3 separate regions of the Homo sapiens genome follow, and regions 1 and 2 are each linked to region 3. Evidence: fine-mapped expression QTL. A gene starts in region 3. Each other region holds a variant in brackets. All regions are shown on one strand. Distances are from middle to middle.

Evidence for each region. PIP is the estimated chance that this variant, and not a neighbour inherited with it, causes the effect.
Region 1: its variant is the best candidate, but not a certain one, in a credible set for the expression of IL34 in pancreas (GTEx, PIP 0.63).
Region 2: its variant is the best candidate, but not a certain one, in a credible set for the expression of IL34 in nucleus accumbens (GTEx, PIP 0.89).

The regions. Positions count from the first base shown.
Region 1 is chr16:69,842,966-69,845,639 of GRCh38, reverse strand. All of the region lies in intron 6 of WWP2 (WW domain containing E3 ubiquitin protein ligase 2), which reads right to left. Among named protein-coding and RNA genes, the nearest start is that of WWP2, 82 kb to the right of the region's middle. The variant T/C (reference allele first, on the strand shown) is at 1,523.
Region 2 is chr16:70,622,376-70,625,049 of GRCh38, reverse strand. It overlaps a transcript of IL34 not described here. Among named protein-coding and RNA genes, the nearest start is that of IL34, 23 kb to the left of the region's middle. RefSeq lists an enhancer at 2,475-2,674. The variant G/A (reference allele first, on the strand shown) is at 1,200.
Region 3 is chr16:70,645,471-70,648,144 of GRCh38, reverse strand. IL34 (interleukin 34) reads right to left here and starts at 1,586. Exons shown (of 6, transcript NM_001393494.1): 1 at 1,170-1,586. The coding sequence starts at 1,197.

The DNA of each region.
Region 1 (2,674 bases), 800 kb after region 3:
TCACAGTTCCAGTTCTACAGCTTTACCAAGCAGAGGAAAGAAGGAGAGGAAAGGGTTGCTTTGACATCGCAGTCTTCACCTTCATGGGCAGGTCAGAGCACCTTTGTTTGATCACAGTGAATAGCACCCAAGTCCAAGAAAAACCTACCCTTCAGACAGCAAAAGCTAAATATTTAGTCTGGGAGACAGCAGGCAGAAGCCCATCATTCTCTCTGCCCCCAGAAAGCAAGGACAGCAAAGGACTGCCCTTGATCCCAAAGGTCTGATTCATCACCTCCCAACTACAGTCCTTGATGTAAACGCACCGGTAATGCCTCACTTCCCAGGCTTAGCAGGGAAGGGGGGTAGGCATGCACAAACGAGTCTCCAGATACAAAGAAAACCCACTGCCACTTCCACCGAGTGCTCCCGTTGTGTAAGGCCCTCTGACTGACATGCCTCATCTCAGTTCATTCCCACAATAACCCTGTGAGACAGGTGATACCCCCACTTTACACCTGAAAAAAACTGGGGATCCGAGAGGTTTTGTGACTTATCCAAAATCATATAGCAAGTAAATGACAGGCCAGGATTCGATCTGCATCTCCTGATTCCAAAGCCCTACACCTTTATCCAATAGACTCCTTGGCCACCGCCTACAGTCATAAGCATGTGTGCACAGTGACCTTCATACCTGCAACAGCAAAGTGGAAAGGGGGCTTTTAAGGAGGCAAAGAGACAGCCTTTGGATAATATTTGCAAAAATATTTCCTGCTGAATGGCAACAGGTTCCATGTGAGTGCAGAATGAATAGTTACTTAGATGGCAGAGGCCAGGGAAAACTCAGATGCTACACGTAGTAAAAGCCTGCAGCAGCTAACAGACTGCAGAGGACTCCGATAAGGCTTACACTATCGGAAGGTACCTTGCTCACCAGTAACTAACTAGCACTGAATGTCTACCACGTGTGATGGGCCAAAATGCATCCGATTTCCTGTTGCAGCCTGGCTGCTGCAACACCGATGACCTGGTGTCATTCTCAACACCAATGACAACAAACGAGGTTTAACAGGATCTCTGAATTTCAAGGTCGATCAACTAGAGGAATTCAGAGACCAGTAAATAGGTCAAGAATTTAGATCCAAACTTGTTAATAGCTGAATCTGACTTTGAGCCCCAAATTAAGTTATATGGGTGTGTTTGAGACAAACTTTCCAACTCAGCTAAAAGACTAAGATGTAGTTACTAGCACCAAAGCTGAGAAGGCATCACTCTCTAAAGAGTGAAATACTCAAGTATTCCTTCCTCTCTAAAAGAGTGAAATGCTCAAGTATTCCTCGCCCACCGCTGTTCTAGCTTAAGAAATTGTTTCCTCCAGTTCCAGGTGCCCATCATGGCTTTGTTGACACAAGATTTGCCAGTTACACTGTCATTCATCACCCCGTGAGACCCAACTATTGTAAGTCACCTACCGAGACACGGAAAACATGACTGGTCTTTGGGAGTGAGGCAACGCCTTTACAGTGACTTGGAGAAAAGAGAA[T/C]GGGGAAATGGCATCTCTGCTTCTAATAAAGGTACGGAAAAAAGATCCAAACGTCCATCTTGTCTTGCTCCCGCCACTTGCCAGTCACCACAACCTCATAAGCCCACAAAACAACCAAATCTGGAGAAGCTGACAGCTGTCCTCAGAGGGATCTTTTAAGATGCTGCGGGTATTGGCTAAAATCATATTCCATTTTTCAAAGCATTATTCCCCCTCCCTAGGGTCTGTTTGGGAAGTTTTTTTGTTTTTTTGTTTTTTTTACAGACATAGTCTCACTCTGTTACCCAGTGCCCTGATGCTAGCTCAGTGCAGCCTCAAACTCTTGGGCTCAAGCAATCCTCCCACCTCAGCCTCCCAAGTAGCTGGGACTACAGGCACACACTACCATGCCCAGCTCATTTTTCTATCTTTTATAGAGACAGAGCCTCCCTAGGTTGCCCAGGCTGGTCTTGGAACTCCTGGCCTCAAGCGATCCTCCCACTTTGATCTTCCAAAAGAGCTGGAATTACAGGCATGAGCCACTGTGCCTGGCCTCGTTTGGGAAGATTTTACTGCCAGTTACTCACCTACTTTCCGCAAGTGATAAAGATTTACAAACTACATTCGTAGTTTGTACATTTAAGATTATTTTCCTCAAAATGTCCTCTAAATATCTGGGGATTTTGCACATTGCAATAAACAATAAACAAAGGTGCCAACCCTCTCCCCTCATCTCTTTATACTTAGAACTATTTTCCTGCCTAGACGTTCAGTTGCCATGGAAATGAGTTTGCACCACTAACACAGGTATAAAATGGGAATTTCAGTAAATAACATTACGTCATTTGTAATACGTATAACAAGTATAATATTTGGACTCTAAGCGTAGGAGGTCTTAACCAACATTACAAGGGAACCATGGGCCACCCCCAAAGCAGAATGCATGACAGAAAATTGCACAAAGAACCATTGCTCTAAGCATTTCTATGTGTATCCTGGAAGAATAACTGTGGCTGCAGCCCCGGACATACAAAAAAGCAGTCAAGTTTCCTGTTCAACAGTTCCTTTTATCCAATAACCTACTTAGCCAGTCCCAATCTTCATCAAGGAGCCTCTGACCCTTCTAAGAATCCTGAATTCTTTCACAACCATAAAAAAGAATAAAAAATAAGT
Region 2 (2,674 bases), 23 kb after region 3:
ATCTAAATAATTCTTGCTGTAAAATAGACAAATGGTCTGAGGTGCCTGATGTCCAGGCATTCTTTTACACATCAGTCCCTTCCTAGTCTCTGTGCCCAATGCAACTCGTACCAAATCTTCCTTCTTTCCCTCCCGCCTGTCCCCTCAGTCCCAACCCCAAGCGTCACTGAGTCTTTCTAATCTTCCTTTTCTACAGACCCATCTGACCTCTCCCCTCCTCTCCAGGCCAAGCTAGGTCCCAATTCTTCCTCAGCCTCCCCTCCTCCACCCTATAATCCTTTTATCACCTCCCCTCCTCACACCCTGTCTGGCTTATAGTTTCGTTCAGTGACTAGCCCTTCCCCACCTGTCCAGCAATTTATTCTTAAAAAGGTGGCTGAAGCTAAAGGCATAGTCAAGGTGAATGCTCCTTTTTCTTTATCCCAAATCAGATAGCGTTTAGGCTCTTTTTCATCAAATATAAAAATCCAGCCCAGTTCATGACTTGTTTGGCTGCAACCTTGAGACGCTTTACAGCCCTAGACCCTAAAAGGTCAAAAGGCCATCTTATTCTCAAAATACATTTTATTACCCAATGTGCTCCCGACATTAAATAAAATTCCAAAAATTGGAATCTGGCCCTCAAACCCCACAACAGGATTTAATTAACCTCACCTTCAAGGTGTACAGTAACAGAAAAAAAGTTGCAATTCCTTGCCTCCACTGTGAGACAAACCCCAGCCACATCTCCAGCACACAAGAACTTCCAAATGCCTGAACCACAGCAGCCAGGTATTCCTCCAGAACCTCCTTCCCCAGGAGCTTGCTACACGTGCCGGAAATCTGGCCACTGGGCCAAGGAATGCCGGCAGCCCGGGATTCCTCCTAAGCCGCGTCCCATCTGTGTGGGACCCCACTGAAAATCGGACTGTTCAACTCACCTGGCAGCCACTCCCAGAGCCCCTGGAACTCTGGCCCAAGGCTCTCTGACTGACTCCTTCTCGGCTTAGCGGCTGAAGACTGACGCTGCCTGATCACCTCGAAAGCCCCGTAGACCATCACAGACGCCGAGCTTCGAGTAACTCTCACAGTGGAAGGTAAGTCCGTCGCCTTAATCAATACGGAGGCTACCCACTCCACATTACCTTCTTTTCAAGGGCCTGTTTCCCTTGCCTCCATAACTGTTGTGAGTATTGACGGCCAGGCTTCTAAACCTCTTA[G/A]AACTCCCCAACTCTGGTGCCAACTTAGATGATACTCTTTTAAGCACTCCTTTTAGTTATCCCCACCTGCCCAGTTCCCTTATTAGGCCGAGACACTTTAACTAAATTATCTGCTTCCCTGACTATTCCTGGACTACAGCTACATCTCATTGCCACCCTTCTTCCCAATCCAAAGCCTCCTTTGCATCCTCCTCTTGTATTCCCCCACCTTAACCCACAAGTATAAGATACCTCTACTCCCTCCTTGGCGACTGATCATGCACCCCTTACCATCTCATTAAAACCTTATCACCCTTACCCTGTTCAATGCCAATATCCCATCCCACAGCATGCTTTGAAAGGATTAAAGCCTGTTATCACTCGCCTGCTACAGCATGGCCTTTTAAAGCCTATAAACTCTCCTTACAATTCCCCCATTTTGCCTGTCCTAAAACCAGACAAGCCTTACAAGTTAGTTCAGGATCTGTGCCTTATCAACCAAATTGTTTTGCCTATCCACCCTATGGTGTCAAACCCATATACTCTCCTATCCTCCATACCTCCCTCCACAATCCATTATTATGTTCTGGATCTCAAGCATGCTTTCTTTACTATTCCTTTGCTCCCATCATCCCAGCCTCTCTTCGCTTTCACTTGGACTGACCCTGACACCCATTAGGCTCAGCAAATTACCTGGGCTGTACTGCTGCAAGGCGTCACAGACAGCCCCCATTACTTCAATCAAGCCCAAATTTCATCCTCATCTGTTACCTATCTCAGCATAATTCTTCATAAAAACACAGGTGCTCCCCCTGCTGCTCGTGTCCGATTAATCCCCCAAACCTCAATCCCTTACAAAACAACTCCTTTTCTTCCTAGGTATGGTTAGTGTGGTCAGAATTCTTATACAAGAGCCAGGACCGCACCCTGTAGCCTTTCTGTCCAAACAATTTGACCTTAATGTTTTAGCCTAGCCCTCATGTCTGCATACAGCGGGTGCCGCTGCATTAATACTTTTAGAGGCCCTAAAAATCGCAAACTATGCTCAACTCACTCTCTACATTTCTCATAACTTCCAAAATCTATTTTCTTCCTCATACCTGAAGCATATACTTTCTGCTCCCCGGCTCCTTCAGCTGTACTCACTCTTTAAGTCCCACAATTACCATTGTTCCTGGCCCGGACTTCAATCTGGCCCCCCACATTATTCCTGATACCACACCTGACCCCCATGACTGTATCTCTCTGATCCACCTGACATTAACCCCATTTCCCCAAATTTCCTTCTTTCCTGTTCCTCACCCTGATCACGCTTGATTTATTGATGGCAGTTCCACCAGGCCTAATCGCCACACACCAGCAAAGGCAGGCTATGCTATAGTACAAGCCACTAGCCCGCCTCTCAGAACCTCTCATTTCCTTTCCATCGTGGAAATCTATCCTCAAGGAAATAACTTCTCGGTGTTCCATCTGCTGTTCTACTACTCCTCAGGGAT
Region 3 (2,674 bases):
TTCCACCCCCGCCGGGCTCTCAAATCCTCCAGGGCTGCCTGCTATGGGGAGGGAGGCACACTTTGCTTGGCTCTCAAGGCCTCAGCCAGCCGGGTCCAAACCAGCTCCCAGCCTGGCCTCACCATCCCACCGCCAAACCTTTGCTCACACTGGCCCCTCTTCCTGGAACATGGGCCTCATGACCCCAGGTCTACCTGTGTGACCACCACCCCACCTTCTAGACCATTTCCAGTAGCCCCTCCCCCATGCTGCACCCCTGCTTCTCATGACCTAGGGGTTTCCAGAACATTGGGTCCAGCTGGGTCCTTCCACCCATCCTTAATGTCCCAACCCTTTGTTGTATATTTCCACAAGGGCCAGGGTGGACCCAACTCTTCTTTCAATCCCTCGCAGGCTCATACCCCAAACCTCCAACAGTTCCTGAGCACTCAACCCTGTGCCAGGCGTTGGAGACAGAGGCACGAGACAGCAAGGTCCTTGTTGTCATGGCAGTGACTCTGCAGTGGGCACGTGGGAGGCACCGGAAAAATGTGTTGAATTTGAGTCAATTGAACTGGATCTTGGAGACTGAGGGGATCTTGGTCTGGCCTCCCAGCCAGCAGGCATAAGAGGCTTCCAGATCCTTTTTTTCCTTTCTGTCCTCATTTCAACTTATTTTTCTTTTTACCAACAGTGTTATCTTTCTGCTTTTTAATTCTGTTCTGTTATGGAGGGAGGGTTGGAGGGGAACAGGCTGCCTTCTCCAGGCATCTGGCTGCTCTTCTGCCGTGGGTCTTGGGTCCCTAGACACTTTCACCAGCCCCTGCCCCCCTCCACCGGCCATACCCAGGACTGGGCCGCTGCTGCCCGCCCGGGGCTCCCCAACACCCACAAGCCTGGAAAGGTGAGATGCTGCCACCTACCCCCAGTGCCTGCCCCGACCTAAGACCACCCTGAGGACCATGCCCACCCAGCCAGAACTGCCCACCCAGCTTGCCCGTCGGAGCCCGAAGTGAGCGGCAGACAGGGCAGACGGCGGCCGTGGGAATCTCAGAGGGTGTCTGCAGTCCGGCTGGGAAGCATCGCAACTTCTCACCAGCAAGAATGCCCTGGTTGCTATGGTTACGGCAGATCCTGGATCTAGGCCAAGGCCTCCCAATGCAGGTCCCTAGGGACCCCCCAGTACTCACAGCGCAGCCAGGTGAAGCCCCGGGGCATGGTGGTGTTCCTCGTCCCCCTGAGAGCTCAGGCGCCGTCCCCAGCAGTGTGTCCACAGAGGCCTAAGCACGGCCTACATGGCCTCGGGGCAGCAGAGGTGGTCACTCAGTCAGGGAAGGGCTGGCCCTGGAGGAGTGGCTGGGCTGCGGGAGTGAGCAGGTGCCCCAAGGGCAGCAGCTGCCCTTATCTGCCCGGCAGCGTGGAGGACAGCCGGGGGGCGGTGGCCGCAAGTCCCATGGCAGCCCAGAAGCAGGTCTGAGCCGGTGGCTTGGGGGTCTTTCGGGGTCTTCCTTTCCAAGGAGCAGGAGGAGAGAGTCCCTGGCAGGCCCCTCGGAATCTGGGGCTGGGTGACGCTTTCTCTGATTTCTCCGACTGCAGCTGCTCAGTGTGAAATCTGGCTCTAGGAAGAGAAAGGAGGAGAGAAACTGATTATGTAAGAGCAGCGCTGCCACTCAGCCATCAGCCACAGCGCACACCGCACCCACGGCCTGCACAGGACCACCCGGCCCTGGCAGCTGGACACGGCTCACGTGAGAAATGACTTCAGGATGTCCGAACGGCCCTGGCCCATGAGTGAGTTATGATGACACCAGCTGGCAGCCTGGGGCCTGAACAAAAGCAGGACCAAGGAATGAACAGGTGGTTTGAGTTCACACATCGAGAGCCATGGTAGAGTCCATGAATGACTCAGGCTAAAGGACAGGTTAAAAAAGCAGACGAGCTCCCACTCCGAAAACAAGCCGGACGCAATGGCTCATGCTTGTAATCCCAGCACTTTGGGAGGCCAAGGTGGGAGGATTGCGTGAGCCCAGGAGTTCGAGACCAGCCTGGTCAGCATAGTAAGACCTCAGTTCTATTAATAAAAAAAAAATTAAGAAAAAAAAAATTTTTTTGAGACGGAGTCTCAGACTCTGTCATCCAGGCTGTAGTGCAGTGGCGTGATTTTGGCTCACTGCAGCCTCCACCTCCAGGGTTCAAGCAATTCTCCTGCTTCAGCCTCCCAAGTAGCTGGGATTACAGATGTGCACTACCATGCCTGGCTAATTTTTGTATTTTTAGTAGAGATGGGGTTTCACCATGTTGGCCAGGCTAGTCTCAAACTCCTGGACTCAAGTGATCTGCTGTCTTGGCCTCCCAAAGTGCTGGGATTACAGGCGTGAGCCACCGCACCCGGCCAGGACTAAGGTCTTTACATTCACTGAATCTCTCACAACAATCTCATGGAAGTGCAAAATCTCAGTTTATCAATGAGGAAACTGAGGCCCAGAAAGGTTAAGACACTTGTCCAAGGTCATACGGCTTGTAAGAAGTGTGACAGGAATTCAAACCCTGTGGGCTGGTGGCTGCTCCCAAAATTCGACAACCACACAGGGCTCAGCGTGTGTGCGTGGTCCTCCCATCTGCCCCTCTGGACTCTGCAAGGTCTGGACCATTGTGTCTGCTCTGCAGATCAGGCTGGAATTCCGTCTCTGATTTA